Linked DNA regions of Homo sapiens. The protein of the gene in region 3 purifies or fractionates together with the protein of the main gene of each other region. This does not show direct contact. Each region holds a gene or a part of one and is shown on either strand. Other genes may lie near its edges. The genes, in order: PREPL, RSAD1, LIG3 and APTX.

Region 1 (7,033 bases), on a different chromosome or scaffold from region 3:
TGAATATACATACTAATATGAGAGAAAATAACTCAAGCCATGTAGATTCCTAGGAGCTAGAATACTCAGTCCTTAACCAGGGCCTGTAATTTATAACCTACTTTTAAAGTCTTCAGATTCCTTAAATGACATATAACAAGAAATGGTTTATCTTCTAATTTCACAATATTTATTTTTAGCTTAGTACCTTTTATTCATTTATATTTTTTCTTATATAAAAGCAATAAATGCTACTGTCTCATACCAATTAGGACAGTTAGTTATTATATTAAAACAACAACAACAACAACAAGTATTGGCAGTAATGTGGAGAAACCGGAATCCTGATACACTGGTGGTTGGAATGTAAAATGGGGGAGCTGCTTTGGAAAACAGTATGGTGGTTCATCAAAGAGTTAAGCTTAAGATTACCATATGATCCAGCAATTCCACTCCTGGCATATAATCCCCAAAACTGAAAGCAGGGTCTTAAAGAGATCTGCATACCTATGTTCACAGCAGCATATTCACAACAGCCAAAAGGTGGAAGCAACTCAAGTGTCCATTAACCAAAGAACGAATAAGCAAAATGTGGTATACACATGCAATATTACATGGAATATTATTCAGCCTTAAAAATGAATAAAATTCTGATCCACGCTACAATATGGATGAACCTCAAGGATATAATCTAAGTGAAATAAGCCAGTCACAAAAAATTTTGTATGACTCCACCTATGTGAGGTGTTTGAGTAGTCAAATTCACAGAGACAGAGGCTGTGGGAAGAAGCAAATGGAGAGCTGTTTAATCGGTACAGGGTTTCAGTTTTGTTAAGATGAAAAACGAGTTCTGGAGATTGACTGCATAAGCCTATGAGTGCACTTACCACTACTGAACTATTCACTTAAAAATGGTTGAGATGGTAAATTTTATGGTATTTTACCATAATTAAAAATTTTTAAATGAAAAAAATACACAAGGAATAAAGTCTTTTTGACCAGTTGGACATTTTATATTAAAAGCAAAAAACGCTAAGTAAAGAAACTCTGCAAAATACCCAAGGTGAAAGAAGAGAAAACAACCCATTGGCTTATAATTAGTGTTACAAAATTTAATAAAACGAAGGCTGGGTCGCACATGGTGGCTCATGCCTGTAATCCCAGCACATTGGGAGGCTGAGGTGGGCAAATCACTTGAGCCCAGGAGTTTGAAACTAGCCTGGGTAGCATGGTAAAACCACATCTCTACAAAACAACAACAAACCACAAAAATTAGCAGGGCATGGTGGCACATGCCTGTAGTCCCAGATACTCAGGAGGCTGAGGTGGGAGGATCACCTGAGCCCCAGAGGTCGAGGCTGTAGTGAGCTGTGTTCGTGTGCCATTGCATTCCAGCCTGGGTGAAAGAGCAAAACTCTGACTCAAAAAACAAAACAAAACAAAACAAAAAAACAAAAACCCCACAAAAACAACAAAACAAAAATGAAGGCTGTATTTTTCACTTAGCTTTATTTTCTTCTGTTAACATACTTTTTAGCTTTCCCTCATATTAACATTAACCAAGTATAGTGAGTCATCTGTAATTCTTTTTGGCTGCCTACCATATGAACTTTTTTGCATTTGAAAAACCTCCAACCTTATCAGCTAGAGCCTGCCTCTCACTGTGGAGATACTAAGTGCTAGACTTCTCTTTCCCATTTTTCCCTGCAGCTTGGGAGTAGCTGTGTGACCCATGTGTGACTTGGGTCTATCAACCAGACACATGTGCTTTACACTCTGCATGGAAAGTTAGTGATTCAAAGAAGCAGTGATCACAGATAATTTATTCTGGCAAAAGTGCCACAGCTATATCCAGCTCTAGAAGTTGCACTGGCAGTGTGAGGTGATTTGTGCTTGGCAGTGGCGGCAGTAATAGTTTCATTGGGCCAATTCTATGCCTTTGGCTCTGAAGCCTCTAACACTGGTCTGAAGACACCTACATTTTCCTAATGCCCTTTAATCCCTTTTCTGCTTAAATTAGGGTTGATTTTTGGTGCTTATAAGAAGAATTTGACTTATACATGTATAAAAGGTTGTCTCCTAGTCTTCACTATAATAAGCAACCTAGCATAAATATCCTTCTCATCATTTCCTTTTAAATTTCTAAAAGTCAAAATCTAGTTGCTTTGTCTTTAAACTGTAAATAATTCTGCCATTATCTTTGTGCATAGGCTATTCTCCACATTTTTCTGTTTTTAAAAAATAGACTTACAGGTGACTACTATTTAACACTTATTTACAAGCCCACAGTATAAACTCCCCAACCTCAAAATAAAAAATCCTGAAAATAATTTACTCTCTCCCATCTCAGTCATTATTTTTCAGAGTAACCTAGAAGTAGGAGAATGATAGCAGTGAAACCAACTGCTACAATGTAACTTCGTAATTTCTGACACTGGGAAAAGATAATCATTTTCAGAACAGGGTAAGATATTTCAATTAAAATACGGAAAAACTATGCCCAAACGACCATTAAGAATGGACTATCTAAAAATAAAGAGCCTATAAATCTAGGACTGAAATGTTGATGGGCAGTAGCCTGTCAAGGTGACCAGGAGCCAAAGGACTCAGTGCATTCCAGAGTCACAGCGTGCTTTGCCTGGCTTTCTCAACTGGGACTCATATATGCTTCAGTGCTTTTTCACCAATTCTAAATGTCCTTACAAATACAAATGAGCAATGGAAATAGCCATTAATATCTTTCAGTGGAAAGCCTTAAAGATAATAAAGAACACTGTATCAGAGAAGAATAACGGTTAATAGTTGGATTAAAATAACTTTAGAAGTTCTCCTCAAGCTATAATTCTGAGTTTAAAACTTAAAAGCTTTGTTATACTCCTATGCTATGGTAAAACTGTAACAGAAATGTTTTTCTTTCCTTTTTTTTTTTTTTTTTTGACAATGTCTCACTCTGTTGCCCAGGCTGGAGCACAGTGGTCCACTGCAGCCTCAACCTCTTAAGAGATCCTCTTACCAACAAGCCTGGGTAGGTTTTTTTTTTTTTTTAATTTCTTGCAGAGACAGGGTCTCGCCATGTTGCCCAGGCTGGTCTCGAGCTCCTGGTAAGCAATCTGCCCACCTCAGTTTCCCGAAGTGCTGGGATTACAGGCATGAGCCGCTGTGCCAGCCCAAAAACATTTTTCTTAGAGTAGCCTATGGCTTCACACCTCCCCCATTCTATAAACAGTAGAGACAGAGCGTACTCACCTCCAAAGTCACCGCTCTCACCAGCTCTGGATTAGAATTACACAATGCTCCTGCAAGCACCCCTCCAGCACTGAAAGCAGTCAGGGTTGTTAGACTTGGCTGAGAAAAGCCTTGGCCATGAAGCGTCTTAATGCAAGCCTCTAAATCAGCAAGGCCATTGAGTTTTTTAGTTAGGCGGCCATCAGCGTGCCACTGGAGGCCTAACTCACCACCACCTCTGAAATTGAAGGGCAAAAAAGTTTTAGTGGAAAAAAAAAGTTAATACTGTAGGCTGGGGTCAGCGAACTACACCTGGAGGCCTGTTTTTTGTGTGGCCCTGGAGCTAAGACTGGTTTTTGCTTTTTAAAGGTTGAGTGAAAACAAGGAATGTGCAACAGAAACTGTACGCGGCCTGCAAAGCTTAAAATGTGACTATGTAGCTCTTTAGAGAAAAAGGTTTGCCAACTCCTGATATAGACAATCCAGAATTGATTCAACGAATATATTTTGAGTGCCTGCCCATTTATCAGGGATTAAGTACAGACCTTAAAAGTAGAAACAAACGAAAATCCCCTACCGTGGAGAAGACAGTAATTTTGTGGGGTAAGAAAACAACGACTTACCCAGCAATGTGGTGTCATTGCTACAATACAAGTGTATTTAAGGTATTACAGGAGCAGAGGAAAGAACATCCATCTGCCAGGTGAGGGGTATATACACGAGTCAGGAACACAAATGCTTTTAAGGAGATGATGCCTAAACTGAGTTGTGAAGGAAAAATTTGAGTTTCCAGAGGGCAAAGAAAAGGCATTAAGACACAGATACGACACAGCATGTATAAGGGCAAGGAGGTGACAGAGCATGTCATTTAAAAGACATGACTTTGGGGGCTGGACACAGTGCCTCAAGCCTGTCATCTCAGCATTTTGGTAGGCTGAGGTGAGCAGGTCACTTGAGGTCAGGAGTTTGAGACCAGACTGGCCAACATGGTGAAACCCCCGTCTCTCCTAAAAATAGAAAAAATTAGCCAGGTGTGGTGGTGCGTGCCTATAAGCCCAACTACTCGGGAGGCTGAGGCAAGAGAATTACTTGAACCTGGGAGGCGGAGGTTGCAGTGAGCGGAGATTGCGCCACTGCACTCTAGCCTGGGAGACAGAGTGAGACTCCATCTCAAAAAAATACAAAACAAAATAAAAAAAATAAAAGGACATGATTTTGGAAGGCTGAGGCGGGCGGACTGCTTGAGCTCAGGAGTTCGAGACCAGCCTGGGCAACATTGGAAAACCCTGTCTCTACTAAAATACAAAAAAATCGGGCTGGTACGGTGGCTCATGCCTGTAATCCCAGCACTTTGGGAGGCTGAGGCGGGCGGATCACTTGAGGTCAGGAGTTCGAGACCAGCCTGGCCAACATGGTGAAACCCCATCGCTACAAAAATTTCAAAAATTAGTCAGGAGTTATGGCAGGCACCTGTAATCCCAGCTACTCAGGAGGCTGAGGCAGGAGAATCGCTTGAACCCTGGCCAAGATCATGCCACTGCACACTCCAGCCTGGGCGACAGAGCAAGATTCTATCTCAAAAAAAAAAAAAAAAAAATTCAGACAGTGTGGTGGTGTGCGCCTGTAGTCCCAGCTACTCAGGAGCCTGAAGCATGAGAATCACTTGAACCTGGGAGGCAGAGGTTGCAGTGAGCCGAGATTGTGCCACTGCACTCCAGCCTGGGCGACAAAGCAAAACTGTCTCAAACAAAAAAAAAAAAAAAAAAAAAAAAAGGGTCTGATGCTAAATGCCGCTACAGAGATCCATCAGACCATTAGGAGTATTATACTGGGGAATCTGGACTGTGTTCTAGAGATGGGGAGGTGGAGAAGAATTTTAAGCAGAAATACAAAATAATATTTGTGTCTTGAAAACAGCTGAAATAAAATGGAAGTTAAATGGAAAACAGTTCAGATTCAGAGGCTACTTAAACCTGAATTCAGGAGAACTGAAAGGAAATAATAATATTACTAAATAAGTACAGAGTCTGGTACCTCTATGCAAAAATCCTAAAAACCTATCCTTTTGCTTTTTGGATCAACTAATCTGTTAAAGAATCAAGTTTCACCAGTGCTGGTTTAGGAATACAAAAATTGAATAATAAGAATGAAAAAAATAAGCTTTTGTTCCCTGATATATATTGTTATTCTTGACATCTCTCACAATGGTCTAGCACTTACATGCCAGGTAAAATATACTGACTCACCGAACATGGCAGTATGCTAATATCCATCCATCATCCACCAGGACCCGCCTCTCAGGCCTGAAATTCATTTTCAAATCCATTCCATAAGCTCCATATACATGTACCAAGAGAGGTTTCTTCTGCAAGTCCTCAGAGTCAGTTTTGTGGAAAACAGTCATTGGCACTAATTTTCCATCCTAGAAATGAAGAATTACTATGTATGTAAAGAAGAGTCTTTTATAATAACTGTTTTATCCCAATTTAAAATACATTGAGGTGCACTGTCCCCACTTGTGTGCTACCTACTGATGTTGAGCACAAATTTGTTTAAGAAAAAGAATTATGGTCTCTAAAAATAAATCATGGCTTTTGGTTTCAGCTACCTTGCTGTCCTACAGTATTAACCAGAAAAGAGCAGCAAGACTGGCCTGAAAACATTTTATTAAATGCAGCTTTTCATGACAATAATGTAATTTTAAAGAGTTCTTCACTACCTACTATAATTTTAAATTTTCAGATGAAACCAAAATACTTACCAAGGTTAGAAGTCCTAGTATAGCACTCTTCCTATGCCTAAGAGCTAGATATTGGCATTTTTCACTTTTGAGTATCTACAAATATGCTGACTAAAGTCTTACCAGCTCAATTTTCTATATCCTCTGTAGTCGGAATTCTCAACCATTAAGACCTGAAATCTTACTGATGTTACTGATAACTACCACAATCCTCTTCAAAGGCCCATTTAACTTTATTAAAAAAAATTTAAAGTGGTCTTAAAATTTTTCGGTAAAATTCTTTGTAGGGTTAAAGTAAGTTAAATTATTTGTAAGGTTACTAAGTTACTTGTAGGTTATGTAACCATCCCCCAATGTAGCTCAAACTCATCAGTTCCAGTTGATTGAAACTAGGCAGTCTCTGAACAGACAAAAGAACTAATTCTGATCTACCTTTCACACAAAAAAGATAAAGAAATTGGTTTTCACCCTGCTTAAACTAATGAAATAGCACCGTTTACATAAAGAAAATAAATAATACATCCAAGTCACTCTTCATATTTTCATTCTCATTTTGAAAACTTCACTTTGGGGCAATAACTGGAGACAGCAAAATGTAATCAAATAAGGAGGAAATTCTCCTCTCATTCTTCTTTAAAATACCCAAGTTGTTATGACATTGTTAACTTTCACTTTTAGTAAGATTCACTTTTATAAAACTTGATGTAGATTAATTTCTATAAAACACTCTTGGTCTTTTCACTTCCCAACTCTTCCCCAACTTCAATTATACAATCAGAAAAAGTTGCTTGTTGAAAAGTTTTGAAAGGAAGAGGTAAAACAGTAGCTACTCCTGTGATGGGCTGGATCTGGGTTTGCCAGCAGTACTAAAATGCCTGTGGAAAGGTATAGCGCTTCCATTCAGCAGCTGCTTCCCTTCTCCCCTCTTGGCTCTCCAAGAACATGGTGCTTAACTGTTCTTTCCATCTCGGGTCCAATAATTGCAACATTTTGATAGACTAGTCTAATTCCATGTTTGTAAAACCAAATAAAACCTATCTAAAAGATAATACACTAAGTGGGTAACAATGATTATTTCTAAGAGGTGCA
Region 2 (4,648 bases), about 15 Mb from region 3:
ACCTGGCCTGATGTCTACAACTTTTAAATTATTCAGAAAAAAAATTATACAGACATATTTATCTAAAGATGAAGTAAATGTGGCCAAAAATTAACAATTGATGAATCTATAGGGTAACCACAAAGTATGGAAACTTTTTTTTTTTTTTTTTTGGAAGCAGAGTCTTGCTATGTTGCCCAGGTTGGCCTCAAACCCTTGGGCTCAAGTGATTCTCCCGTCTTGGCCTCCCCAAGTGCTGGGATTATAGGCATGCACCACCCCATCTGGCCTATCATATTTTTCAATAGATTGAAGATGTTCTTGATGGCATTATGAATATTTGCCTATTTCCAGACTTTATAGTTACATAGTAGACAAAGGATATATGGCTTCCAATGAACTATTCTTTTATCTTTTCTGTAGGTCTGAAATCCTTCAAAATAAAATGTAGGGAGCGGGGGAAGGAATCTCAGCCCTAGGCTAAGGTTCTAGTCCCAAAATCAGGATTCCACGCTCTAGGAAGGAGCTCAAAGGAGAGGACCACAGTCAAGACAGGCTCCAGATGTGTTTATTAGGCTATTTAAATAGAACCATGTGACCATTTCTGTAGGTAAAAGGACAAAGAAGAATTACAAACACTTTGGGTCTTTCCCGAATTCTCTCCCCTTTCTCTGGTCAACTCCACCCACCTTCACTCTCAAAGGAAAGGCACAGGGGGAAGGAAGTGAGTGAGGGGGCTCAGAAGAGTCTGTGTGGCTCCTACCACCCCAAACATATTCTGGTTTCCCGAAGATAAGAGGCAAGGCTTGCTCTGATCTTTCCCAGTTCTCAGAGTCCAGCAGGCCGCTGTGCTGGACACATACATGGATCCACCAACATACATCAGTCCTTCTGTGTTCTCTCCTGCATGGTAGAGGCTGGAAGCCTAAGAGCTATATTCCTCAGAATTTCCTGCCAGCCAGGATTTGCTTTAAAGTCCACTAATGAGAGGCACTTCTAGAAACCATGATTCCTTCTCCAGCAGTGGCAGACAGTAGGCATGAGGTTTTGTAGCATCTTCTGAGCATTTTCCAGTACATCATCTGCTTTTGTGCTGCTGGAAGCTGAGACCATCAGCAGGAGTTTTCTGTGCCTCCTGCAAGTTGCTGATTTCTCACAGTTGCTACTGGCTTTCTCCAATGTTCACTTCTCTATCCCTTTCAGTGGTTTATAAATACTTCATTCCTATAGTAGATCCCTTCCTGCTTATATTAATAATACCTAGAGGGGACATGGTTTTCCTGATTCATCCAGCTATCTTAGGACCTTACTCCAAAATAAGGAAGGCTTCTCTTGGGGAGGTAATTGCCTGTAGAAAGATTTCCAAACACTGTTCATTATTTGATGCCAAAAAGGTAAACAGAAGCTGATGTGGGTGGTAGGCAATTCCCAGCCATGGAACACATGTTGGCCTGTGAGTCCTGAGATGCTGAATGGGATGCCAGTTCCCTGACCAGAAATGTCCTCCCATCTACCTCACTGCTGCCATTCCCCTGGGGATGCCAGGGCTGAGCAATAACCACAAGGAGCAGAGACGGCACCCGACAACGGAGAAGAGATGTCTGCAGTACCGACCCAGCTCTCAAAACCCACCTGGCATTACCCTGGAACACAGGAACATTTTTGTCATCCTCCTGGCACAGGGGAGGGGGTTCTCTGCTGCCAGGCTTCTTGGAGCTGAGGCAGGAGGGTCAGCAAGAGAGAGTCCAGCACAGCCAGACCCTCCCAGGAACACCGAAGACCCCTGGAAAACCAAGAGGCCTGAAGGTGACTACTTCATCTTACCAATTTCAAGCCCATCACCCAGCAGGGCCGAGCTCCCAGCACCCGCAGGTCCCGCCTTACCAGTCAGTCTTTCTCACTTCTCCTGGGTCTGTGGAGAGCTGTAGTCAGGGCTCCCTGGTATGCCTCAGCCCCCTCTGCCCGGCACCCCCCAACACACCTGTGATCCAGCTGCAGTAGGCCCCGCTCCAGCAGCTCCTGCACCTCCTTGTTCGCTCCAAACACATCCCACAGGGTCAGCTGGGGCTCAAACTGCTGCCAGTGCTGGGGAAGCCAGAGGGTCAGAGGTGGGGAGCTGGCCTGGCTACTCTGGGCCACATAGTTGGGGTATGGTGAGAGGTGGGGGAGGGTCCAGTTCAGCATGGAGATCTCAGCAGCTGACATGCATGAAAGCAGAACCAGGCCAATGGGCCAGCAGGGAGGAGGGCAGCTTCACTCCTATTCCACTGAGACTGGAACCCAGCTTCCAGCCAAGCCAGGCCTTCCTCTATGCCTCCTCTCTTCCCTCCCCTCTCAGCCAGCTCTAGCCAGGGCTTTATGGCTCTGCTTTATCCAGAGCAGCTCTGGATTTGCTTGATAATTATCTACTGTGCTTCCTATGAGAGGTTTCAGTGCTCCCTAAAAACAAGTGGAAACCCTTTATCTATCTATTGCTTCACAGAGCTCAGAAAATTGAGGTTAAGAGAGGTGAAAGGATTTGTGTCCAAGGTTGCAGTAAAATGAGGGCTGGAACTTGGGTCTCTGCAGCCCTGGTCTAGGGTTCTTAGCTATGCACCACTGCTCACTGCTTCTGCCCATCAGGCCTCAGCTGGACCTGGGCCCCACTTCTAGCTGCCAATCTCACAGAAATTGGAGGTATATGTGTGTGGGGGGGGTGGCAGGGAGGGGGCATTGATTCTGCAAGACTTTAGGAGGGAGTGGTGTGCAAGAATCCTAACTCCTTACCTGGTGAGTGATCCCCACATCGGTGCGTAGCCCCAGGGCCAAAACTTCCTCCAGCCTCAAAGAAAAATCACCAAGGAGTCTTAGAGAGGAGGCCTGTGCTCCTCCCATTCTCCAAATTCTACACTGGGATGCATTTAGAGGAGGCTAACAGGGACCATACAGTATGTGGCAAGGCAGGGGCCAGGACAAGACAGGAAATAAAAGATATACAAATAGACATGGTCTTGGGGTGTGGGGATCCTGGAGGAGAGCCCTGTGCCCTTGGATGCTCACAGCTCCAGCCTGCCCAGGGGGACACGCTTCCGGGTGCCATGGCCAAACAGCATCACCTCCTTCATCCAGTTGTCAGGCTCCAGTGTCTGGATCCGAGCCTCCCGGGTGTGGCCTCCAGCCCCCTGGGGCATAAATCGTCCATGGGCCCCTGACAACATCAACAACCATCCCCACATTAATGGCTGTTAATACTATGTGTTTACCAGATTTAAATCATGTGGTCCCTGGAGCAACTGCCTCTAACATACTGGAAATATAAATTATTTTTCTTTTCTTTTCTTTCTTTCTTTCTTTCTTTTTTTTTTTTTTTTTTTTGAGGTGGTGTCTCACTATACTGCCCAGGCTGGTCTTGGACGCCTGGGGTCAAACGATCTTTCCACCTCAGCTTCCCAAGTAGCTCAGATTAGAGGCACATGACACCAGGCCCTTTTTTCTTTTTCTTTTTTTTTTAATCATCTATCCCAAAATGCCAAGACATATAAATTCTTGGGCTCTCCTCTAGCCCTGTCCAATTGGGAATTCTGAGGGTGGGGCCCAGCAGCTTGGGTTTTAACAAGCCCTCCAGGAGATTCTCATACACACTAAAGGCTGAGAACCCTAGTGCAAGGTGCAACATTAAGCCCCTTATAATTCATGCTCAACAGTTCTATAGGGAGGTATTATTTTTTGCCACATTTTACATATGAGAAAATAGAGGCTTGGAGAGGTTAATGTGGCCCAAGTTCACACAGCCACGACATTCCTCTCCTGAGTCACCCTTTCTGTAGTTCACGGGACTCACCAGGCCCAACGCCAAGGTACTGACCACACTGCCAGTAAGTCCAATTGTGGGTACTGAGCGCCCCCTGCGGGGAGGGAGGAAATAGTGCAGAGTGAAGAGGGCAGGCCTCATTTTTAGACTCAGGTAAGGGGCCCCAGGTTAGAATGTCCCACCATCTCGGCCAGGATCCTTCTCTTCAGAAGGTCACAACGCCCTGGTCACACTGCAGTCTGCCCATCCTCCACCTCCAGCCATCAGCCCCAGAACTTACATTCCGGGCAAAGTTGGAGACCTCATACTGGTGGAAGCCAGCCTCCCGAAGGACAGCCCGGCCCCTCTGGTACATCTCAGCTGCGAGCTCCGGGTCAGGGGCTGGAAGGGCACCCCGCTGCACCTGGGCGAAGAGTGCGGTGCCCCGCTCCAGGGACAGCTGGTAGAGGGAGAGGTGGTCATCACAGTGGTGCAGCAGTTCCTGCAGCTGCCCAAGCCACGGCCCCACCTGCTGTGCCGGCAGCCCCAGCATCAAGTCTACAGACACGCGCCCGGGAAAGAGGCGCCGGGCCTCTGCCAGCGTCCGCAGAGCATCGCAGGCCGAGTGCGTCCGTCCCAACAGCCGGAGCTCAGTGTCATCTAGGGACTGGGAAAAGAGGGTGGGTGTAAGCATACCAGCAGCTCAGAGAGAGACAAGAACCCTCCTCCCCATTGTAGACACAGATACAGGGAGAACGCAGCACGTGGCAGGCAGCTGGAAGGCAGGAGGGGGAAGGTCAAGCTGGCACCAAGAGCTGCCATTCACAGAAGGGTCGCTATGTGCCAAGCACCTTTATGTAGTGTCTAATTTAATCTTTGTAACCCTCCAATATTAGTTCT
Region 3 (7,033 bases):
TTTAGCAGGTTGAGGTAGGCAGATTAATTGAATCCAGGAGTTTGAGACCAACCTGGGCAAAACAGCAAAACCCCGTCTCTACAAAAAATACAAAAATTAGCCAGGCATAGCGGCACATGCCTATAGTCCCAGCTACTTGGGAGGCTGAGGCAGAAGGACTGCTTGAGCCCAGGAGGCGGAGGTTGCAGTGAGCTGAGATTGCACCCATGCGCTCCAGCCTGGGCAACACAGCCACATTTTTTGTCTCAATAAATAAACAAACAAACAAACTCAAAGAAGCAGAGACCAAAAGATATCTATATATCGCTGCCCATGCTCCTATAGTACCCTGTGCATATCGCTATAGTAGGAGACAGCATGGAGTTCAGAGGCTGGTGGATTGTGTCTGCCTCACCTTTAGCCTACAGATGAACTCTTGTTGGACAGAGTGGTTAGTTTCACTTCACGTGCCCAGTGACAAGGACATCAGAGATGCTCATCGACAATTTGTTAGATAAATGAAAGAAACAGAGTTGGAAGATTCTATTCCAAACTGTGTATATGGTTCACAAAAACCTAATTAAATATGTAGGACAGTAAATTTTCTAACTAGTCAAATAGGATGGGTTCTTCTGGCCTCCTAGGAGCAGAATAAGGGGAGAGGAAGACAGATGCCAAAGTGCTCTGAGAAAAACTGGCTACATAATTTGTGGAGTACAGTGCAAAATGCAAATGCGAGGCCCCTTGTTCAAAATTATTAAGAATTTCCAGATAGCACTACAGTACAGCATTAAACCAAGCATGGGATCCCGGGCAACTATACAGCTCACATGCCCAGGAAGGCAGCCATGGCCTTGAGCTCTCCGGAGGAAAGGCCTATTCAGGATGCTCATGCCACACCTCCTGCTGAGCCTTTCCGAAGGAAGTCCTGGATGATCTGGGTCTTCGTGTTGTAGCTAGGATTATCGGCCACCATGGCGCATAACTTTCGAAACTCCCGTAGCAGACAGTCCTTATGCCTGGGGTCACATTTGCTTGAAGACAGACTTCTCTTAGGGGTGGGGCTCGAGGGGGCTTCCCCAGAGTTGTTGGGCTTGGCTGTTGGAGAAACAACAGAGATGAATTCATTCTGCCTTTCTGAGAAGAAAGAAAGGGAAGGAAGGAAACTAACAGATATTCTGCTGGTATTTAGCTTTATTTAATCTCCCCGAATAGACTTTTGGGGTAGATGTCATTATATCCATCTTACAGATAAAGAAATGGAGGCCAAGTAATTTTCCCAAATCTTACAGCTAATAAATAATGTTAAAGGAACAATGGCCTCCTTAGACCCAAGCAAAAGACCAGACTGATGTGCATCTCTTTATGTGAGCACTTTACTGAAGAATAAAGACCAAAGTCATGCCAAGAATGATCAGGACTGGCTGGGCACAGTGGCTCACGCCTGTAACCCTAACACTATGCGAGGCCAACGCGGGAGGACTGCTTGAGCCCAGGAGTTCGAGACCAGCCTGGGCAACATAGTAAGATCCTGCCTCAAAAAAAAAAAGTGGTCAGAAGGATCTCAGAGCAATTGTAAAGCTGATCCCAGAAAAGCTGGCATGAGAAAGGGGTAAGAAATCAAGTACGTGTTAGACAATGTGAAATTACTGCTATCACAGGTTGTCAGAGCTGGAAGAAGCCTTAAAGATTATCTAGTTCAATGTTCTCTTACTGATAAGGGGACTGAGGTCTGAGAAGAGCAAATGACTTCCTGGCCCACTTCCTTGTTGAAAGAGCCAGGACAAAGACACTACTAAGAAAGTCAGATTCCATTAGTACACTCAACATCCCTACCCCTCGCTGCTTCAACTTTTCTTTTCTTATTGTCAAAATAAAACCCTGCTCCCCAAGGAGCAGTTATAAAAAAAAAATAATACATTTTTACAAAAGGTGGTCAAGGGGCAGGGATTTCCTCCAGACACTTAAAAATAATTATGTGCAACTCATCGGTGATTCCCTTTCACCTCCTTGTGACCATTTAAAAAGCAAATTTTATTCGGCAAACTTGTGGCAGAGCCATTACTAAGCTAACTGCTGTTGTACACTGTTTCTTGTCTGGGCTTTGTAAATTATAAATCCATCCTCATCTCTGATCCGGAATCTAAATATGATTTTAGGGGACAAAATCTCCAAAGTGTCAATGTTCAACCAGGTTGCAAGAACTAAAACACTCTCTTTCTCTCAACTCCTCCCAAATTCCATCCCCAACACCGGAGCCCTTCCAGAAACATGCTGTCCTTATCATCACCTGGACTCTTCTCTATCTTTGGCCTACCAGCAAACAACAAACCAACCAACCTCAGAATTTTTTTTTTTTTTTTTTTTTTTTTTGAGACAGAGTCTCGCTGTCGCCCAGGCTGGAGTGCAGTGGCGCGATCTTGGCTCACTGCAGGCTCTGCCCCCAGGGTTCATGCCATTCTCCTGCCTCAGCCTCCTGAGTAGCTGGGACTACAGGTGCCTGCCACCACGCCCGGCTAATTTTTTTATTTTTAGTAGAGACAGGGTTTCACTGTGTTAGCCAGGATGGTCTCGATCTCCTGACCTCGTGATCCGCCCGCCTCGGCCTCCCAAAGTGCTGGGATTACAAGTGTGAGCCACCGCGCCCGGCCCAGAATTTTTAAATAATAAAAATCCTATAGAGCCAGGCACCGTTTTTGCAATGTTATCTCTTACAGTCCTCATGAGAACACTATGGGGTAGATGAGGCATGGAGATATGATGAAGCTTAAACAAATAAATACACAAACTCACTGAAGCAGAGGGGAAAGTAATCTATATATTGCTGCCTGTGCTCCTATAGCACCCTGTGCATAGCACTATGGTAGGAGAGGCCACTGCTGCTTCATAGACAGAGGCTAAAGAGAGGTAAGGACGTGCTCAGGGATCTGAGCTGTCAAGGACCAGAACCCAAGTCTTCTGACCTCAGGTCTAGGCTTCTTTCAATCACATAAAATGTCTTTCAATCTCCAAATGACTTCTAAAATAAGGCCAAGTGGTTTGGCTTTATTTATTTTCTTCAGCTGAGTCAATCACAAGAATGTCTCCAAACAATAAAAGCAGCAACACAGTGTAGTATAAAAGAGCACAAGTACTGAAGTCAGACTTCAGTACAAATACTAACTCCATGATAACCCTGAACGTCAACTTTCTCAGTCATAAAAAGGGCCTAATAAAAAGTACTTCCTAAATAAAAGTACTGTCTAGGGTTAACTGAAGAAGAAATGAAACTACATATATAAAAGCCCCTAGTCCAATGCTGTCTGTTTACGTAAGGCCAATAAATGATCCTGATCTTCTCAACTCCTATCTATACCACATGCCCCAGCAAAGTCTTCCTGAATCCCTGTCTATGAAATAGTAATTCTATATTTTATATAAAAGAAACTATATATGTGTGTATACACGTGTGTGCATGTGTGTATTTTAGTGAAGAGAACAGGAAACTTAACACTTTATTGTTCATCTGTCCTACAAATAATAGCCACAGTCCTCCCCTTTAGGAGATGGGATTTGAACCCAGAGCTCACTGATTCCAAAGTCTGCAAGCTTCATCCCTAGGCTGTACTGCCTCCCAACAAATAGCAATATCCTTCAGATCTTTTTTTCCTTCCTTTGTGTTCCATGAAGTTCCAGTGTTTTGAATAAACAGTTTTAAGAATCAAGAAGGGAGATCCATGCATGACATCTCCCTTCTTTCATACTTTCATTTCTAGGCATATTCAGGGAAACAATTTCTCAAAATTCTTTCATTATCAAAACACAAGGAAGTAAAAGACAGGTTCTAATAATCTCTGTCTGGCCCAGGTAACTATTTCAAGGGGAAAAAGTCTTGACAAAACAAATCTTTCCGCTGCGATAGAGGTTAAAGTATACAAAGAAATGCTATACAAGTGGAATGCTGGCCGAGCGCAGTGGCTCACGCCTGCAATCCCAGCACTTTGGGAAGCTGGGGCAGGTGGATCACCTGAGGTCAGGAGTTTGAGACCAGCCTGGCCAACGTGGCGAAACCCCATCTCTACTAAAAATACAAAAATTAGTCAGGCATGGTGGCAGGTGCCTGTAATCCCAGCTACTTGGGAGGCTGAGGTGGGAGAATCGCTTGAACCCAGGAGGCGGAGGTTGCAGTGAGCTGAGAATGCACCACTGCACTCCAGCTTGGATGACAGAGCAAGATTTCATCTCAAAAAAACCCCCAAAACCAAAAAACAAACAAACAAACAAAAACCAAGCGGAAGGCTTAGAATTAGCCATTACCAGTCTCTGCTCAGACAGAAGCAAATTATTAATGAGATGAGATAGCACAGAATTTTCACTCTTTAGCCAGAATCCTAGGTAGAATACAAAATAAAAGCAGCACTATAACAGCTAAAGTAGCCCTAACCTATCTTACCTGAAAAGCCAGAAAATTTCCGGGGATTGGTACTGGTGACAAATGAGGCGCCTTTCACTGGAGAAGTCACCTGGCCAGTGGTTGTCAACTTAGCCTGGACAACAGCTTTCTTCTTTGGTGTACCTGCTGCCTTAGAAGACAGATCTGTAGGATCCCAAAAGAGTATAAAATATCCTTCAGTGAACGATCTCTGAAAAAAACATCCAAAGAATCTATCAACTGCTCCTAGGGCCTTGCTTGTTAAGTCACTACCCTAGCACTAGCCCAAGGCTGGCTGGTGGCTGGTATTTTTTGAGTGGGGGTAGTAGGTAATAGGGTATTGTGGGGACAGAAGGGAAGGATATGCTGGAGACAAAAGATCCAGTTACCATTTATCTCTATTAGTACCTTAAATTTTCATCAACATTCTCCACTTCTTATCCCATATGTAAGTCTCCAGAAATAACAATTTGGGGGAAATCAGAAATCATAGTTTGATGGATAAAACTTAGGGAACCCCCAACCCCACAGAATTAGCTTCAATTTAGAGATGAACAAAAAGTAAATGAGGATCACAGAGCATGTCAACCTAGCATAGGAAGGAAAATTTCCAGATGCTTAGTTATCTGAGTCATGAACTCTACCTGTATTTCTCTTCCTCCAAATGAGAGATGGGTCAAGAAGTAACAAAGGCCGAGGCCAATAGCTAAGGCAGTGCAAGGTGGGATGGGGAGCCTGAGAATAAAGTATATGGGAAGCACAGTTTTCTTTCCCGGAAGTCTTTTTTCCTTTCAAAGAACAAGGACAGATACCCATTTTTAGAGCCATTGTTAACTGTCTTCCTATGGTGACCAGAACTAAGTTGAAGATATGAACATTATTTTACAGACACTGAAGGTCAAAGAGGACTAACTGGATTTGGGGGTATTGGCATAAAATTTCTAAAATATGCATATGTAAATATGCATGTACATGCAAACATGTTATATATAGCCATATATAGGTATGAATTTTACATGCATATACACGCACATATTTTCTAGCTCTGTCTGCTGAAAGGGCTTAGAAACAGACATGCCATGGCTGGGCGCTCAGGCCTGTAATCCCAGCACTTTGGGAGGCCAAGGTGGGTGGATCACTTGAAGTCAGGGGTTCAACACCAGCTGGACCAACATGGTGAAACCCTGTCTCTACTAAAAACACAAAAATTAGCTGGGTGTGGTGTCAAGTGCCTGTAGTCCCAGCTACTTGGGAGGCTGAGACAGGACAATTGCTTGAACCTGGAAGGCAGAGGTTGCAGTGAGCTAAGACAGTGCCACTGCACTCCAGCCTGGGTCACAGAGTGAGACTCTGTCTCAAAAAAAAAAAAAAGAAGAAACAGATACCCCATGACAATGTGTTCACATAGTATCCGGGTTTTACTCTTTAATACCATTTCCCACTAACAGGATAGTGCCACTACACTCCAGCCTGGGTCAGAGTGAGACTCTCAAAAAAAAAAAAAAGAAGAAACAGATACCCCATGACAATGTGGACACATAGTATCCAGGTTTTACTCTTTAACAGGGGCATTTCCCACTAACAGGAATCCCCAGAGAAATTACCAATTTCAGGGCTGGGGAAGGATACATACGGGATAAGACTAAAAGCATCTTGCTATGCTCAAGAGTAAAGAAGTACATTAAAAAAAGTTAATGAAGGTATACAGGACACAGAGGACAGTGTAAAGGGGTTCCTAATTGGCCAAATATGGGACAATTAAGTATCAAATTAGTTAAGTACAGTAATGAATTATATGCTACAAGAAAAAAAGTAAAAGAGGATAGTAATCAGTACTCTATTCTTCCAAAATATCAATGTCATAAAAGAGAGACTATGGAAATATTTCAGATTAAAGGAGGCCAAAGAAACATGACAACTAAATGCAACACCTGATATGATCCTAGACTGGGATCCTATACTGCAGGAAAAGGCTACTGAAGGTATGACTCAATCCATTGACAAAATAGTATACAGATGGTAGATTTAAGTATTACATCAAGGACAAATTTTCTGAAGATGATAGCTATATTATAGTCGCATAAGGGTCATATATCCTATTCTTAAGGTATATACACTGAAGAATTTTAAAGGGCCATGATGTATGCAACTTATTCTCAAATGGTTTAAAGTGAGTGCACGCACACGTGTGTATGTATGTAGAGAGAGACAGCACATGAACAAATATGATAAAGCAAATAGAGTAAAATGTTAATAGGTAAATATGGGTAAAAGGAATATGAATGTTCTTTGTACTATTTTTAATCTTCCAACACTTCAGTGAGTTTAAAATTATTTCCAAATAAAACGTTAAAGGCTGGGCATGGTGGCATGCGCCTGTAATCCCAACTACTTGGGAGGCTGAGTCAGGATGACCTGAGTCCAGCAGTGCAAAGCTGCAGTGAGCTACGAATGCAACATTAAACACTGGCCTAGGCAACAGAGTGAGACCCCATCTCTAAAAGAGCAAAGTTAAAAAAAAGAGAAAGAAAGCAGTTGAACTCCTTATCCCTTTTTCTCTCAGCACCAGTAAGATGAGAAAGCAGTGTTCTCTACCTTACCTGCAATGTGCTGGGTTATCTGTTCCTTCTCATTATCTTCCAG
Region 4 (7,033 bases), on a different chromosome or scaffold from region 3:
CCCACCTGGCTTACCTCATACTCGGAATGGCGTGGTAGCCCAATCGGAAGCGGAGTTTGCTGGACCCAGCAAAATCTACAATCACCTTTTCCCCCACAGTGTGCATATGCTTAAGGAGTTCAAGGTGTTCCCTGGCCACAGCCTTCAGACTGGAAATGGAGGTCCACGGTAAGACCAGCCAATGGTAACGGGCCTTTGGGTATTTATCCTTTATCACCACCACCTGCTCATCTTTGTAAACCTAGCAGAGGGATACAAGAGAAGGAAACAGACATCTACTAAGAATCTTCTGTGTGCCTGGTTGTTATATTCACTAAGTCACTTAATTCCCACAGTCTTGTGCAAATGGTTTTAATAGCCCAGTTTTGAGAGAGGAGAGCACTGAAATTCAGACAGGTTGAGTGTCTTGCACAAGTCATAGTTCCTAAGAGGGAAATCTAGGATTCCAACTCAGATGTGGTTGACTCCAGAGTCTGTTTTCAACCACCACACTACACAGAATACACAGAAGATGCACAGTACAAAATAGTTCCCAAGAATGTGATGTAAAATCTCTGTAGACATAAATTCAAAAGCATCCTTCTCCACTCCAACATGGCAGACTGTGTGACACGTACACGTGGGTTCCAGTGAGCCCTATTAGACCTGCCCCTTGTCAACAAGGAATATAATTGAAGTGGGACTCAAAGGCTCCTCAAGGATGATGCCTGTTTTTTTTTTTTTTTTTTTTTTTTTGAGATGGAGTTTCGCTCTTGTTGCCCAGGCTGGAGTACAATGGTGCAATCTCAGCTCACCGCAACCTCCACCTCCCGGATTCAAGTGATTCTCCTGCCTCAGCCTCTCGAGTAGCTGAGATTACAGGCATGCACCACCATGCCCAGCTAATTTTTTGTATTTTTAGTAGAGACAGGGTTTCTCCATGTTGGTCAGGCTGATCTCGAACTCCTGACCTCAGGTGATCCTCCCGTCTCGGCCTCCCAAAGTGCTGGGATTACAGGGATGTCTGACTGTTAATGCCAGGGCAGCACAGTACTACTGTCACAGTGTATTATCTCTGATGCTCCCCTGAAAGGAACCATACTAAGGTTAATGCAACTTCCCTTAAAGTACCCAGAAGTTTAAAAGGCACAAGGCAGAGGGGATATTCATTTGAAGAACTCAGCTTTCTCTCCAAACAATGACAGCTGCTACTTTATTGCCAATGTGAAAAGCCTCTTGTTCTCACAGAACAGCCCAATAAAATGAATCTCATTCAGAAAGACTGATATCCTTTGATTTCATTTGTAATTAAGACCTCTGTGGAGTGGTCATTTACAACATGAAATGTACTGAAATTCCAAAATTGTATTCTGACCTGCATTTTGGGGTCCTGCATAGAAATCTTCAAGCCTTGACTCCAGTGGCCCAGGGATTCCTAAAAAAAAAACAAAAAAAAAAACAAAAAAAAAAAAAAACAAGCAATGTAAATTACAAATGCCAATAATTAAATTTGGCAACAGTTAATACTGTGTGATAGCACAACTAAACTTGGAAATAAGCTTAGTTTTTGAGAATTAAACAAGATTCACTTGACTCTGCTTCACTCCATTGCCTTCCTATATTCTCTTTTTTTTTGAGACAAAGTCTCACTCTGTCTCACCCAAGCTGGAGTGCAGCGGCGTGATCACTGCAACCTCCGAAGTGATTCTCCTGCCTCAGCCTCCCAAGTAGCTGGGATTACAGGTGCCCACCACCACGCCCAGCTAACTTTTGTATTTTTTAGTAGAGACGGAGTTTCACCAGGTTGGCCATGCTGGTCTTGAACTCCTCACCTCAGGTGATCCACTGGCCTCCACCTCCCCAAGTGCTGGGATTACAGGCGTGAGCCACCACACCCGACCCTATATTCTTTCTTTTTTTTTTTGAGATGGGGTTTCGCTCTTGTTGCCCAGGCTGGAGTACAATGGCGTGATCTCGGCTCACTGCAACCTCTGCCTCCCGGGTTCAAGCGATGCTCCTGCCCAGCCTCTGGAGTTGCTGGGATTATAGGCATGCACCACCACGCCCAGCTAATTTTGTATTTTTAGTAGAGATTAGGTTTTGCCATGTTGGTCAGGCTGGTCTCGAACTCCTGACCTCAGGTGATCTGCCCATCTCGGCCTCCCAAAGTGCTGGGATTACAGGCGTGAGCCAGCACACCCAGCTGTTTTTTATTATTGTTGTTGTTTTTTGAGATGGAGTCTCGCTCTGTCGCCCAGGCTGGAGTGCAGTGGTGCAATCTCAGCTCACTGCAACCTCCGCCTTCCAGGTTCAAGCAATCCTCCCGCCTCAGCCTCCCGAGTAGCTGGGATTACAAGCATGTGTGTACCACCAGGCCCAGCTAATTTTTGTATTTTTAGTAGACATGGAGTTTCACAATGTTTGCCAGGCAGGTCTCAAACTCCTGACCCTCAAGTGATCTGCCCACCTCGGCCTCCCAAAGCGCTGAGATTACAGGCGTGAACCACTGCACCCAGCCAGCCTTCCTATATTCACAGCTGGCTGTTCTAAATGAAGGCGAGAAATGCCAGAGTATGAGTCATACCTTCTTTGCCCTCTCTCACTGCAGCTACAGCCTGACCAATTCTCCACTTTGACATCAGCATATGAATTACATGATCTATGAAAACCTTCTATAGATGCATAAACAACTGATCCACTTTAGTTGTTCAATGTTAAGTACACACTGCCATTATTGTTGTACCTTCAGGTGGCTTACCTCAGGAATTTAAGAAAAAAGCACATAAAGGAACATTCATCCAAATGATTTTCACGCCACAAACAAGTGACTCTTTCATCATGGTTAATAACCCCTCACGCATTTCTGAACTTTAAAGTGTACAAAACAATTAAGCAGTCATTATATTTCATTTCTTCTCCACATCATCTACCAATCACACTACCCTCACCTTTTTGATAGGTGCATCTTTTCCCTTCTTTAGGGGCACAGAGCATTGGCCAGAGTTGCTCCCAGGTTCCAGCCCTGTCCCAGCCTCAGCTTCCTGAGCAGCATCCCTTTCTATAGAATCACTGTTGCCTGATCTCTTTCTCTTCCTGTGTGTTTCCAGGCCAGGGTTCTTTGCCTCTTCCTCAAACTCTACAATATATGGATAAAGTTCATTCACCATGTGGAGAACCTGGCCAGGCTGCAGCTTCACCTCTTGGTCCTTCCCAATTACGACTGAGTCAATGCTGGTGGGATTGACTCCTACCTATGGAATAAACAATCAGAAAATAATTATAATAATAGCAACAGCACCTACAGTAAGATAGCCACTGCTATGTTAACCACTTACTATATGCCAAGCACCTTGCCTTATGTTCACCTATATTACTCCATCACTTCCATACATGACAGAGAAGCCTTCACTGGCTGGCACAGACACTCTAAAGTCAACAGCATAAGAAAATCATCGAGTATAAAATTCCAAGTTATAAATACACCTACCTGCTTTACCTTGACATATCCCTTGTTACACTCTGCTTTCAACTGTACTGAAAGAGATTGGAAAAAGTTAAACACAAATGCAACAAAGAACCAGGCACTTGCTCCTATCTTCCCTAAAGAAAACAAGCTTCACTACAGGCGGCAGCTGAACAGGTGGTGTTTCCTTAAAGGCCTATTAGCAATCACCTGTTATTGCAGGTGGCTGGAGCTCCAAATCCTACCAATTTCTAAAGGTTTAAATCCTTCCATAAAATGTCCAACAGCGTACATACTCCCTTAGCTATTGCCAAGATCCCTATGAGGCAGCTTCAATTAATCCCCACAAGTTTCCCTATTCCAGAACCCCTGGCCTGCTCATGATCACAGACTCTGCCGCCAGAAAAGAAGACCTGTTTCTCCCAGCCTGGGCAGCATGGCAATACCCCGTCTCTACAAAAAAATACAAAAATTAGCCAGGTGTGGTGGCACATGCCTGTAGTCCCAGCTACTTGGGAGACTGAGGTGGGAGAATCACTTGAGCCCCAGGAGGTGGAGGTTGCAGTGAGTCAAGATCGCACCACTACACTCCAGCCTGGGCAACAGAGTGAGACCCTATCTCAGGAGGAAAAAAAAAAAAAAAAAAAAAAAAAAAGATCCATTTCTCACACGAACTCTTGACCAAGGATTAAATCAGGCTTCCACTATTATTTTGGAAAAACAACAACTATTAGATGCTTTAAAAGATAAAACAGTAAAAGACACATTCCTGGAAAACAGAAACTCAGGTGGCTTTGGGTAGAAGGAGTGGAAAGAATGTTCTAGAAAGATGATTGCAGAGACAGAACAATCTGAGCATGTGTGAGAAGTGGTAACATTAAGCATTCCTGTTCTGATAAATGAACAAGGTATCTGGAGTTGAGACAGGGAGGAAAGAAGAACCACCATAGCTGCTCCCCAGAGAGGACAGGGTGCCACATACATGCCCCTTCAGTTGCTGTTGTGAGGAAGGGAACAGAGAGAGAAGCAGCCACTGCTTCTGCATCTTGGGCCTACTCAGCTCAAGCATGGCTTTGTATCCCTCCACTTAGATTAACTCATATAGGAAAGATCATAATCAGTGCTGCAGATGCCAACTCTCTAAGTTCAGAACCCTTGGGAAACCTTGCTGTGGGGGGGTCACACTCCAGCCAGCAGTGTGCATGTTTACAGGAAAAAACAAGGTACATGGTAAGGATTTTTTTCTGAGGGCAAGGACTTTCATGTTATTAAACCCTAAGACAAGTGCTAGATGCCACTGTCTCATAATACTTTGCGTGAAGCAATATGTAAAGGACGGCACTACCCCATTACTTCTCAGAAAGACATGGTTTCACCTGTAGACTCCAGAGTTTACATCTTGCTGCCCATTGAGCAATGTCCCTGGGGAAAGGAGGGCAGGACTCAATTCCACCATCCCATGGTAACAGTATGAACTTGACTGCTCCCAACCTTCACCCACCCTGCCTTGAACATTATCACATTGGGAGGGCAGAATCAGGAATAAATAGGGCCCTGGTGTTGGCTAAAAGAGCTCAGTTCCTGAGCTGTATTTTTGGCAGACAATAGATTTTCCATCAAGATCACCCAGAAAATATGCATCTTTGGTTATCACTATCCCACATAACCATAGTAATCTCCACATTTCTATGACCAGTTACCTTGCTGTCGAGAACATTTCTTATCAGTGATCTTGGTCTCTGGGCCACGCCCAATCACAACTGCTTCCAAATGTGGAAGTCTGATTCGCTGGTGCCGGCTGTCCTGTCTCACCAACCAGCACACCCGCATCATCACTCTAAGGGACAAAACAAAAGAATCACTAGAAAAACAGATCCACTAGCACGAGTCCTCCAGGGCCACACCCGGTGCCACCACGCATGTGATCTACCAGCTGTTCATCTTGAGGCAAGTGACTTCACCACCCTAGTCTCAATTTCCTCACCTATAAACCATGATAATGATGGGACTCAGGAGGCTGTTGTGAAAATTAAATGAGATAATGTGAGTAAGTATTTACCTCCCTGCCTGAATCATGCTAGGCAATCAAATATTTATTACACATTTATTTATTTATTTATTTTATTTATTTTGAGACAGAGTCTCGCTGTGTCCCCCAGGCTGGCACGCAGTGGCACAATCTCGGCTCACGGCAACCTCCACCTTCCGGGTTCAAGCAATTCTCCTGCCTTAGCCTCCTGAGTAGCTGGGATTACAGGCACCCGCCACCACACCTGGCTAATTTTTGTATTTTTAGTGGAGACAGGGTTTCACCATGTTGGCCAGGCTGGTCTCAAACTTCTGACCTCAGGTGATCCACCCGCCTCTGCCTCCCAAAGTGCTGGGATTACAAGCATAAGCCATCACACCTGGCCTGTTACACATGTATTGATATGTGCTGGACATTAGGCTACATATTGAAAGTCAAAGGATGAATAAAACAGGGACATTGTCCCTGTCCTTGAGGAGCCTGGAGTGCAGTAGGACAGACAGAATCATATACCAATATATACAATATAATGTGATAAACACTACAAGAAGAGAGTAACCAAATATGGCATTAGCCCAGTAAAAGGACTGACTGACTCTTGTGGAGAATATTTTAAAAGGCTTCACGAGGAAGGGATATTAATGTGCGGTTTTAAAGGATGAGAAGGAGTTTGCCTGCCAGAGAACTAAGGACATAAAAAAGATGTTCTCTAGTGCTTAGGTGTCTTTATGTGTCATAGGTTTTCCTTCCCTGTCATGACATACTGATGTTAGAACAATATATTTCACTCCCATCTGCCAGGAGACAGTCATAATAAATATGCAAATCTACAATTTCTTTACTTTTTTTTTTTTCTGAGACGGAGCTTCACTCTTGTTGCCCAGGCTGGAGTGCAATGGCACAATCTTGGCTCACTGCAACCTCTGCCTCCTGGGTTCAAGCGATTCTCCTGCCTCAGCCTCCCGAGTAGCTGGGATTATGGGCATGTGTCACCACAGTCAGCTAATTTTATATTTTTAGTAGAGACTAGGTTTCTCCATGTTGGTCAGTCTGGTCTCGACCTCCTGGCCTCAGGTGATCCGCCTGCCTCGGCCTCCCAAAGTGCTGGGATTACAGGCATGAGCCACCGTGCCCGGCCGCAAACCTACAATTTCTAAAGTGTGAATGTGACAATTTTGTGCAATACGCAACGCGCAAAACAATGGAAGTGCTGATATTCTTTTGAAAAACAACCCTTATGGCCATGTGGACTATCAGTAAAAGAGAAAGAGACAAGAAATTCAGAAGAGAGATGAGACCTCAACAATGGCCGAAGCAAAGGGGATGGAGAGCAAGAAGAGCCAGGAGAAATCTGGAAGACATACTTAATTACTGATGACATTTGGGGAATGACAAAGGAATAAAAGGACACACTGGCCAGGTGCGGTGTCTCAGGCCTGTAATCCCAGCACTTTGGGAGCCCAAGGCAGGCGGATCACGAGGTCAGGAGTTTGTGACCAGCCTAGCCAACGTGGTAAAACCCTATCTCTACTAAAAATACAAAAATTAGCCAGGTGTGGTGG

What was found.
Region 1: the proteins of LIG3 (region 3) and PREPL purify together in Homo sapiens (affinity purification with mass spectrometry; 2 studies listed by BioGRID and IntAct, with this or other methods). This does not show direct contact.
Region 2: the proteins of LIG3 (region 3) and RSAD1 purify together in Homo sapiens (affinity purification with mass spectrometry; 2 studies listed by BioGRID and IntAct, with this or other methods). This does not show direct contact.
Region 4: the proteins of LIG3 (region 3) and APTX purify together in Homo sapiens (affinity purification with mass spectrometry; 3 studies listed by BioGRID and IntAct, with this or other methods). This does not show direct contact.

What each region holds. Positions count from the first base shown.
Region 1 is NC_000002.12:44,323,487-44,330,519, forward strand, and holds part of PREPL (prolyl endopeptidase-like), read right to left. Parts: intron 5,627-7,033; coding exon 5,451-5,626; intron 3,443-5,450; coding exon 3,226-3,442; intron 1-3,225. UniProt on the Homo sapiens protein: Serine peptidase whose precise substrate specificity remains unclear. Does not cleave peptides after a arginine or lysine residue. Regulates trans-Golgi network morphology and sorting by regulating the membrane binding of the AP-1 complex.
Region 2 is NC_000017.11:50,481,858-50,486,505, reverse strand, and holds the end of RSAD1 (radical S-adenosyl methionine domain-containing protein 1, mitochondrial precursor), read right to left. Parts: intron 4,416-4,648; coding exon 4,050-4,415; intron 3,864-4,049; coding exon 3,800-3,863; intron 3,167-3,799; coding exon 3,019-3,166; intron 2,801-3,018; coding exon 2,746-2,800; intron 2,065-2,745; coding exon 1,961-2,064; exon of another isoform or gene 1,864-1,960; intron 1,763-1,863; coding exon 1,645-1,762; 3' UTR 532-1,644; downstream 1-531.
Region 3 is NC_000017.11:34,983,510-34,990,542, reverse strand, and holds part of LIG3 (DNA ligase 3 isoform alpha precursor), read right to left. Parts: coding exon 6,991-7,033; intron 4,556-6,990; coding exon 4,412-4,555; intron 1,078-4,411; coding exon 880-1,077; intron 1-879. UniProt on the Homo sapiens protein: Isoform 3 functions as a heterodimer with DNA-repair protein XRCC1 in the nucleus and can correct defective DNA strand-break repair and sister chromatid exchange following treatment with ionizing radiation and alkylating agents.
Region 4 is NC_000009.12:32,984,617-32,991,649, forward strand, and holds part of APTX (aprataxin), read right to left. Parts: intron 5,304-7,033; exon of another isoform or gene 5,280-5,303; 5' UTR 5,276-5,279; coding exon 5,143-5,275; intron 3,514-5,142; coding exon 3,467-3,513; intron 3,231-3,466; coding exon 2,928-3,230; intron 1,415-2,927; coding exon 1,355-1,414; intron 242-1,354; coding exon 15-241; intron 1-14. UniProt on the Homo sapiens protein: DNA-binding protein involved in single-strand DNA break repair, double-strand DNA break repair and base excision repair.